Regions from separate parts of the Homo sapiens genome. Here region 2 is linked to region 1. Evidence: fine-mapped expression QTL. A gene starts in region 1. The other region holds a variant in brackets. All regions are shown on one strand. Distances are from middle to middle. Region 1 holds the start of PCNP (PEST proteolytic signal containing nuclear protein). Region 2 has its middle 49 kb from the start of PCNP.

Region 1 (5,320 bases):
TAAAAATACAAAAATTGCTCCTCCACAGGAGGCCTACACGCCGCCGCTTGTGCTGCCGCCATGTCGCTAGTGATCCCTGAAAAGTTCCAGCATATTTTGCGAGTACTCAACACCAACATCGATGGGCAGCGGAAAATAGCCTTTGCCATCACTGCCATTAAGGGTGTGGGCCGAAGATATGCTCATGTGGTGTTGAGGAAAGCAGACACTGACCTCACCAAGAGGGCGGGAGAACTCACTGATGATGAGGTGGAACGTGTGATCACCGTTATGCAGAATCCACGCCAGTACAAGATCCCAGACTGGTTCTTGAACAGACAGAAGGATGTAAAGGATGGAAAATATAGCCAGGTCCTAGCCAATGGTCTGGACAACAAGCTCCGTGAAGACCTGGAGCGACTGAAGAAGATTCGGGCCCATAGAGGGCTGCGTCACTTCTGGGGCCTTCGTGTCCGAGGCCAGCACACCAAGACCACTGGCCGCCGTGGCCGCACCGTGGGTGTGTCCAAGAAGAAATAAGTCTGTAGGCCTTGTCTGTTAATAAATAGTTTATATACCTATGAAAAAAATAAAAAATAAAAAAAATAAAAAATAAAAATACAAAAATTAGCTGGGCGTGGTGGCCCGCGCCTGTAGTCCCAGCTACTTGGGAGGCTGAGGCAGGAAAATCACTTGAATCGGGGAGACGGAGTTTGCAGTGCGCCCAGGTCACGCCACTGCATTCCAGCCTGGCGACAGAGCTCCATCTCAAAAAAAAAAAAAAGGAAACCATTCATAAAAAAAAAAAACTTATACTTCCAACTTAGTAGACTGCTCGACAGGAATTAAAATTCAGAATATTCTCTAGTTAAGCCCCTAAGACAAACTTGACAGTGTTTTCAAAAAAGTGACTATCTGCCACAAAATTACCAATTTTGCAATATCCATGGTATGACATATTTTAACTATGATTCCTATGCACAATTTCATTAAAAATATCTGACATTCAAAAATGGCTTAAACTTAACAGCACTACTTTCTTGTAACGGCAAGGAGACAAATTATGTAGAAGTTAAGGGATATTTACTTACTCTAAGTTACCAAGAAAAAGACCATAATAATTTTTCTGATACCAATTAGCAAAGTAATTCTCTACTACTTCTCCCCACATGCTAAAATGGAAACATCAATATTCATACTATAGAACTAATAACCCTCAACTGAAAGAATGGCAGGTAAATTATACAGTGGATTTATAATGACACTCAAGGTACATTTTGACAGCACATTAAACACGTCTGCTACCCTCGGTCAAGACAGTTAACGAGATGGCCTTAAAATCAACACATGATTCTTTAGGCTTTTCCTCAAACTACGTCTAAAATTTTTTGCTTTTCCTCAAACTACTTTTAAACTTTTATGTAATTTTATCCCACAATTTCCAATACAATTTTTTTGGGAAAAAAAATTCCCTAGTGAGAAAGTAGTAGATGGTTTAAATTTAAATTGTTCTTTCATAAGGTATTTTACTAGTTATAAAAAAAAAAAAAGACAGGGGGTGGGGAGGGAAGAGAGAGATGGAGTTCCAGCTTAACTAACAGAATTGTACGTGTTTTTTAAAAAGGAAATCCTGGGTCCAAAGTAATTAACATTACACTTAATCTTTTCAATAATTTTTGTTCCCAAGGCAATTAACATGAAACATTATGTTAGTAGGTCTACTAGTGGCCTTCATATGCTATTAATCGTTTCTATTTTCTCATATTAAATAATTTCGGGAATGATAACTAAGGTGGTCAGAATAGAGAATAATGTTTAAAATGTTCTAAAAACATTTTAAACAGCTCGCACGTGTTAAGTCACTTGTCTTGTTATGTGCAAAGAGGGAGCTGGAGAGATTACGTTTCTTTTCCTTCACGCACAAGACCCGAATTTAGGGAGTGGAATGGACAGAATAAGGATAGCTGTAACCTGAGTTTAACGTCGTAACAAAATACAGGAAGAGTCACGCTAGACTATTTAGTCGCCTAAGTATCTGGCAAGCGGTCAGCTGGCAACAGCCTAAGGGAGATACTTCAAAGAAAAGCAACCAAACCTTAGCCCTAGACCCCGCAGCTTAAACCAGAGGGCAGGCAAAGGCATTCCTCTTCCCCTCCATCACCTCGGCCCATCCTGTCACAGGGTCAATATTAAACTTGGAAGTAAAGGAAAGAGAGCAGGCCGGAGTTGTCCACCTCCTCAGTGAAAAGGGAGCAGCAAGCGTAATTAACTCCTGCGTGTAACTGAGAGGCCGGCACCGTCAGAAACTCAGCCTGCGGCCAGTTCCCGCGGCAACTACTCGGTGGCTCGCACTGTGTGTATGTTATGTCTCATGAGCGTCTCCGGTGTGTGTGTTTTGTGTGATGTGCGTCTCCGGTGTGGCGGTAGCGGCTCCTGCACCGCCGCTCCTGGTCCCACCCCGAGTTCGGTCTCCCTTTCTGGCGCCCATCTCCCTTCTCCTCGGAATCAGGGCCTCCGCTGGGGCCAGGAGGTGACGAACAGTGGCCGGCTCTCCCCAGGCAAGGAGGCGATGTAGGCCCGGAGCCCAGAGGGCCGCATCGGGCGTGCCCGAGGCAGGTCTGGGCCCAACACCTGGCCGGGTGAGGTCCAGATCCGCCCATTCTCGCCCCACCCCACTCCCCCCACCCTGGGAGCTCAAAGAAAGGCCCGGAGCATCCCACGCTGCCCACGACGCTGGGGTTGTGTTCACCTCCGGCGGCTCCAGCTCGCTGCGACTTTTCAGGCTTCTCGTCTCCCGCCTTCCCGTCCGCCATTTTCCCCGCCGCGGCCTCCCCTGCAGCCACGCCAAGGACGTCACGACCCCGCCCAACAACCATCGAGTTTTTGGGGCCAGCCGGCGTGGTGGCAGCCTAGAGCGGTCCCGAGGAATGAAAAGAGGCCGCCTTCGGAAGCGGAAGTGGATGTGATGTCATCGAGTAGCCGCCTCGGAAGGAAGAGCTGGGAAGGTTGGGCGGTCTAAGAGTGCTGGCTAGGCACTTTATTAGAGGGCAGTCAGGTCTTCATGGTCTAGCGACAGGTCCGGAGAAGTGAGGGGAAATGGAGCATCTCCCTGGAAACGCTGGGATCTTAGAAGGTTTCTGCATACCCAGATGTGGTTGCAGCTGAGGCTGAGAGTGTCTTCCGTTCCGGCCTTGCTGGATAACGCATGCCTGCCAACTCTATGTAAACAAAAAGCCTGCATTCTTTTTCCCTAAAGGGGAAATCAGTGTTTATCTAGCGCCCCCTAGCTTCAGACGCCTTTCATACACTCGTTTAATCACGGCGATTGTCCAAATATAGAATTCTCCTCTCAATTACCTGTAAGAGTTGAGGTCAGAGAGAGTAATTTGTCTAAGTCACGTAGCCAACTGTAAAGTTACTTTTTGTATAGTCTGCTTCTACCAAGTTGAGAAACTACTATGTCAAGTTAAGACTGCAGTAATTTCTGCCTTAATAAGAAACCTTTAGTGGATTCCTACAGTCTGCATTCTGAAGTCCGTGAGTTACATTAGGCCCTAGCCTACCTTTTCGGCTTCATCTTCCCCCTTTCTCAGTATTTATCCAGCCCTCCTAGCCAAATGGGGTCTATTACTTGCTTAGGGAACTGGAGTTTCTGGGTTTGTCTTACCATATATAGTTAGAGAAAGTCTTAGGAGTCAGAACTTGGATTTGAATCTGTTTTGCCCTTTCCTGCTTGAGTAACCTTGAGACTTGCTTACTGCCTACAGAGCTACCTTTTCTTCTCTATAAAAGAGCAATAATAATAGTACCTCCTCAAAGAGTGGTAATAGGGATCAAATGAGATCATCTTTGTATACCATTATTTGGTCACTTCATACTTCCCTCAGTTTGTGTGTGTGTGTGTGTGTGTGTGTGTTTTAAGTGTTGTCTCTCTGAATGGCTCAAAAGTTCCTTGACAACAGAGACCAGTTTTTAAAAACTGTGTACTGTGCGTTTCATATATGAATATAAAAAGTGTTCAATATTTGCGGATGGATTACTTCTCGGGCTTCAAGTCCAGGGAGTGGAGAAAGAATGAAGAAATTATCAAAGTGTGTTTCCCATGACAGAAGCAGGGCAGTGTGGTGGTGATTTTGTGATCTAGGTTGAAGTCCCTGATCCATCATTTATCATATATGTAAAAGTAACCAGCAAACTATCTTACAGGTACTTAATTCATGTTTGTTTCATTTTCCTTGTGATCTTTTCAAGGTAATCATTGAGACTCTCGTTTCTATCATTTTAAAAATGGAGATATACACGAAGATTTTTATTTGAGATTATGTATTTACAGATGCTTGTAATTTTTTATGGGGGGTGGAATGGAGTCTCTCATTCTGTCACCCAGGCTGGAGTGCAATGGCATGGTCTTGGCTCACTGCAACCTCCGCCTCCTGGGTTCAAGCGATTCTCCTGCCTCAGCCTCTCGAGTAGCTGGGACAACAGGCGCGTGCCACCACACCCGGCTAATGTTTGTATTTTTAGTAGAGACGGGGTTTCACTATGTTGGCCAGGCTGGTCTCGAACTCCTGACTTTGTGATCCGCCCACCTTAGCCTCCCTAAGTGCTGGGATTACAGGCGTGAGCCACCGTGCCCGGCCGATGCTTGTAATTTTTAAGTGAAGAAGATAAAGCTCAGAGAAGTCACATACCTATTTAGGAGCGGATCCAGTTCCCATATACCACACTGCAGAAGTTAAGGATGCATGTGCAGGACTAGGTATGAAAGGAAAAAAACGAAACAAAAAAAGGATGAAGATAGTAATCCATTCACCTTTCAGTTCTGTGAGTTTCATGAGGTGTGCCTGTCTTGTTCACCACTGTTTCCCCAGCACCTGGATTATACTAGTCTGGATAAATATCTATTGAAGAAATTAATGCAAGCTTCAGTAACCTCCTACAAACGGGTTAGGAAATGGAAAGGTAGTGTAGTATGAAGGGGTGGAAAGGGGGTGATCACTTTCCTCCCCATCAAAAGAGTCATGACAACATGCTTGTTAATAAAAGACAGGTTAACAAGAGAAAATTAATGTGCATAAGCATGGGAATGATACAACAAAATAAGAAAACTAAAAAAAGGGTCAGATGGTTGAAGTTTAATACTTTTCATAGGGGAGAGAGAGGTGGGGGGGCTACAGGCAATTTTAGAGGAGTAGTAAATGATTTTAGGAGAGATTAATGCAGAAATTCACTTGTAAATTATTCTCTTTGTAAACCAAGTGAAACTAGAGAACCAATAATAATTCGAAGGCCAGTCGTGGTGACTCACTCCCATAATCCCAGCTACTAGGGAGGCTGAGAT
Region 2 (5,379 bases), 49 kb before region 1:
ATGTCTATCTTATGCAGGAGGGCTGGACAGCATGGGTTATCAAAGCCTGAGTCAGGAGAAGAGGACATCTGTAATATAATTTTTTTAAAAATCTGATCTTTGTCCCTGCTTTAAAAGCCTTGGAATTTCCTGAGTGATCCAACTGTCTTTTGTTATTCACAATGAGCCCCTTTCTCTCATTGGCCATACCTGAGTTTATGCCAAACAGGTGACTCATGGTAGGGCCCCTAATTGTTTCACAGTGGGCGCTTATCTTAGGAAAAGCCAACCTTCTAAACATTGAAAATTTCAGTCCCACCCCCTGACCTCCTGGGGAGGTAGGGGCTGGACATTGAGGTCAATCATGACCATAGATTAAATCAAAGGTGGCCACATAAGGAAACCTCTAGAAAAACTCTTAAAGAGGATCAAGGCCGGGTGCAGTGGCTCATGCCTGTAATCCCAGCACTTTGGGAGGCTGAGGCGGGTGGATCACCTGAGGTTGGGAGTTTGAGACCAGCCTGACCAACATGGAGAAACCCTGTCTCTGCTAAAAATACAAAATTAGCAAGGCATGGTGGTGCATACCTGTTATCCCAGCTACTCAGGAGGCTGAGGCAGAAGAATTGCTTGAACCTGGGAGGCAGAGGTTGAGGTGAGCCAAGATCATGCCACTGCACTCCAGCTTGGGCAACAAGAGTGAAACTCTGTCTCAAAAAAAAAAAAGAAAAAAGAAAAAAGAGGATCAGAGGAGAACTTCCTGGTTGGTGAACATATGAGGTACTGATAGTGACAAAAGGCAGTCAAATGGCTAGTCAGATAGGGGCGGGTCCCCAGTGAAACTCCATCTCCAAGCCAAAGATAGTTTAAAGCCTGAAAGCCCCAAGCTACAAGTTAAATTCTCGGACCAGATTAAGAACTTGTCTTCCCATTTGGCATGCTTTCTTCTGATTGATCCCCACCCTTCCCCTATTTTACATATACCTACCTTTTCCTAATTGGTTTTCTACACTGTCATGGCCACCTTTAAGTAGTGTCTTCGCTTTAAACTTTTTTGCACACTCACAAACCAATCAGCACACACTCATCATTCTGAGTCCATAAAAGGGCCTGGACCCAGCCACATGGGGGACTTTCCTGCCTTCAGGTAGGGGGACCACCCCCACATTCCCTCTCTGCTGAAACCTGTTTCATCACTCAGTAAAACTCCCTGCCTTGCTCACTCTTTGATTGTCAGAGCATCCTCATTCTTCTTGGGCACAGGACAAGAACTCAGGAACTGGAGTGCAAGTCAGAGTCAGCCTGGCTGGGCTGAGTGGGTGGGCCATCTCCTGCAGCAGGTAGGGTGGCCGAGTGAGACCTGAGTGGGTGTCACTGGCCGGAGGTCCCCAATCCCATGCCAGTACTGACACACTGTGACTCCACAAGGACAGAAGCTTCTGTGTTCCTCCCTGTCACACCTTGCCTTATGCATCTCTTTCACTTGGCTGTTCTTCAGCTGAATCCTTTATAATAAAACTTTAAGTACAATACTTTTTCTTTTTTTTTTTGAGACGGAGTCTCGCTCTGTCACCCAGGCTGGAGTGCAGGGGCCCGATTTCAGCTCACTGCAACCTCCACCTCCCGAATTCAAGTGATTCTCCTGCCTCACCCTCCTGAGCAGCTGGGACTACGGGCAAATTTTTTTACTTTTAGTAGAGACGGAATTTCATCATGTTAGCCAGGATGGTTTCAATCTCCTGACCTCGTGATCCGCCCACCACGGCCTCCCAAAGTGCTGGGATTACAGACATGAGCCACTGCGCCTGGCCAGTACAATACTTTTGTAGCCTGGTGCAGTGGTGCACATCTGTAATCCCAGCTACTAGGCTGAGGTGGGAGGATTGTTTGAGCCCAAGAGTTTGAGAGAAGACTGGGCAAAATAATGACCCCACGTAATTAAAAAAAAAAAAAGTAGTGTTTTTAATGAATTCTGTAAGTCATGCTAGTGAATTACCAAACCTGTGGTCAGAAGCACAGGTAGCTTTGGGATATCTAAGACTTGCACTGGCATCAGAAGTCAGGAGCAGTTTTGTGGAACAGAGCCCTCAATTTGTGGAGTCTGCATTAACTCCAGGTAGTGGCAGAACTAAATCATACAACACCCAGTTCGTGTCAGACAATTGGTGTCAAAACATAGCATTCATGTAGAGGGCTGGTCTGGATTGGAGTGGCAGAGATCAAGTTGGGAGTATCCATGTGGGAAGTATAAGGATTGGAGGCAATAAGGATTGGCTGCCTAAACAGAAGATAAAATACATAAACATATTAAGGATATCTGAAAACCACAATGAGATTCTATATCACACTGAGGTAGGAGGCGGGACTTGACTCCAGAGGTGAGGCTCAGACACCAGAACAAATTGAGGACTAACTAAAACAGGGGCTGGGAGGAAGCAGCTTTCCATAAGACATGCCCACAAGTGTGCCATGTCAGTTTACCATTGCCATGGCAACACCCAGAAGTTACCACTCATTTGCATGGCAATGACTCTGTGACCTGGAAGTTGCCACCCCTTTTCTAAAAATGTCTGCATAATCTGCCCCTTAATTTCCATATAATTAAAAGTGGGTAAAGTCTGGGCATGGTGGCTTACACCTGTAATCTCTGCACTTCTGGAGGCCCAGGCAGGAGGATCACTTGAGGCCAGGAATTCAAGACCAGCCTGGTCAACACAGCTAGACCCTGTCTCTATTTTATAAAATTTAAAAAATTAAAAATTAAATAAAATAAAATTAGATTTAAAATTTGGTTATAAATATGACTGCAGAACTGCCTCGGAGCTGTTCCTCTGGGCACACCGTCTGTGGGGTAGCCCTGCTCCACAAGGAGCAGAACCTCTGCTGCTGCTGTCCACTGCCACTTCAATAAAAGTTACCACCACCACCAGCTCACCCTTGAATTCTTTCCTGGGCAAAGCCACACACCCTCCTGGGCTAAGCCCCAATTTTGGGGCTCATCTGCACTGCATCAACACCTGTCACAATGACTATTATTAAAAAGTCTAGGCCAGGCACAGTGGCTCATGCCAATCAGCTTGCACTCCACATTCTGAGTCCATAAAAGGCCCAGACCTAGCCAAACAAGGAATTTCCTGCCTTCGGGTAGGAAATCCCAGAACTTTAGGAGGCCAAGGCAGGTGAATTGCTTGAGCCTAGGACTTCAAGACCAGCCTGGGCAACATGGTGAAAC[C/T]TTGTCCCTACAAAAAATACAAAAATTAGCTGAGCATGGTGGCATGCACCTGTAGGCCCTGCAACTCAGGAGGCTGAGGTGGAAGGATTACCTGAGTCCAGGAAGTCAAGGCAGAAGCGAGCTGTGATTGCACCACTGCATTCCAGCCTGGGCGACAGAGTGATGAGACCTTGTCTCAAAAAAAAAAAAAAAAAAAAGGATGACAAATCTGCACATGACATGTAGCCCTGAACCTAAAATAAAAGTAAAAAAAAAAAAAATCAAAAAATAACACGCTGGCAAGAGGCTGCAGAGAAAAGGGAATGCTTATACAATGCTGGTGGAAATGTAAATTAGTTCAGCCACTGTGGAAAGCAGTTTAGAGATTTCTCAAAGAACTTAAAACAGTTCTGGATCAAAACTACCATTTGATCCAGCAATCCTATTACTGAGTATACACCCAAAAAACATAAATCATTCAACCATAGAGATGCATGTACACGTATGTTCATTGCAGCACTATTCACAATAGCAAAGACGTGAAATCAACCTAGATGCCCATCAATGACGGACTGGATAAAGAAAATGTCATCTGGGCATGGTGGCTTATGCCTATAATCCCAACACTTTGAGAGGCTAAAGCAGGAGGATCGTTTGAGGCCAGGAGTTTGAGACCAGCCTGGGCAATATAGTGGGACCCTGTCTTTACAAAAAAAAATTAAAATTAAGTAGGCATGATGGTGCACACCTGTGGTCCTAGTTACTAGGGAGGCTGAGGTGGGAGGATCACTTGAAACTGGGAGGTTGAGGCTGCAGTGAGCCGTGATCTCACCAATGCACTCCAGTCTGGGTGACAGAGTGAGATCCTGAGTAAAAATAAAATAAAATGTCGTACATATACACCATGGAACACTATGCAGCTGTAAAAAAGAACAAAATCATGGCCTTTGCAGCAATACAGATGGAACTGGAGGCCATTATCCCCAGCGAATTAACACAGGAACAGAAAACCAAATATCGCATGTTCTCACTTATAAGTGGGACCTAAATATTGAGTACACATGGACACCAAGGAGGGGACAGTAACACCGAGGCCTACTTGAGGGTGGAGGTTGGGAAGAGGGTGAGGATTAAAAAACTACCTATCAGGCCTGGCGTAGTGGCTCATGCCTGTAATCCCAGCACTTTGGGAGGCTGGGGTGGGTGGATCACCTGAGGTCAGGAGTTCGAGACCAGCCTGGCCAACATGGTGAAACTTCACCTCTACTAAAAATACAAAAATTAGCTGGGCGTGGTAGTGGGTGCCTGTAATCCCAGCTACTTGGGAAACTGAGGCAGGAGAATCGCTTGAACTCAGGAGGGGGTGGTTGCAGTGAGCCAAGATTGTGCCATTGCACTCCAGCCTGGGTGACAGAAAACGACTCCATCTCAAAAAAAAAACAAAAACAAACAAACAAAAAACTCACAGAAAAACTACCTATCGAGTACTATACTCATTACCTGAGTGATGAAATAATCTGTACACTGAACCTCCATGACTGCAATTTATCTGTGTAACAAACCGGGACATGTACCCCCTGAGCCTAAAATAAAAGTTGGAAAGAAAGAAATAATAATGGCTGGGCATGAAGGCTAATGCCTGTAATCCCTGCACTTTGGGAGGCTGAGATGGGTGGATAACTCAAGGCCGGGAGTTCAAGATCAGCCTGGTCAACATAGCAAGACTCCATCTCTAATTTAAACAAAAAAATAAAAAGAAAGTAATAATTTTGATTCTGAGACAAAGAAGTTAATAGAACCAGACAGAGAGATGAACCAGTTACTGAAAAACTCTGACCAGGACTTTAGAATAATTATGGTTAATATGTTAAAGGATCCAGTGTAAAAGGTTTCCAGCCTACTTGAGCACATGGACATTTTCTGCAGAACAATGGAAACTATAAGAAAGTATTCAATGGAAATGCTAGAAATAAAAGTCATAATTTCAGGGATGAAAAATTCCTTGATGGCTTTGCCAGGATACTTGATTCATCTAAAGAAAAAAAATTTCTTTCTGACCTATGTATTAGCTTTTTTTTTTTTTTTTTTTTTTCATTTGACAGAGTCTTGCTCTGTTGCCAGGCTGGAGTGCAGTGGCACAACCTTGGCTCACTGCAACCTCCAACTCCCTAGTTCAAGTGATTCTCCTG

Evidence for each region.
Region 2: its variant is fine-mapped to the expression of PCNP in whole blood (INTERVAL, PIP 0.92).

The regions. Positions count from the first base shown.
Region 1 is chr3:101,571,688-101,577,007 of GRCh38, reverse strand. It overlaps PCNP (PEST proteolytic signal containing nuclear protein), which reads right to left and starts at 2,828. Exons shown (of 5, transcript NM_020357.3): 1 at 2,729-2,828. The coding sequence starts at 2,792. It also overlaps the pseudogene RPS18P5. RefSeq lists enhancers at 2,309-2,468, 2,489-2,648, 2,729-2,858, 2,959-3,228, 2,672-3,617.
Region 2 is chr3:101,620,944-101,626,322 of GRCh38, reverse strand. No RefSeq gene overlaps it. Among named protein-coding and RNA genes, the nearest start is that of PCNP, 49 kb to the right of the region's middle. The variant C/T (reference allele first, on the strand shown) is at 3,212.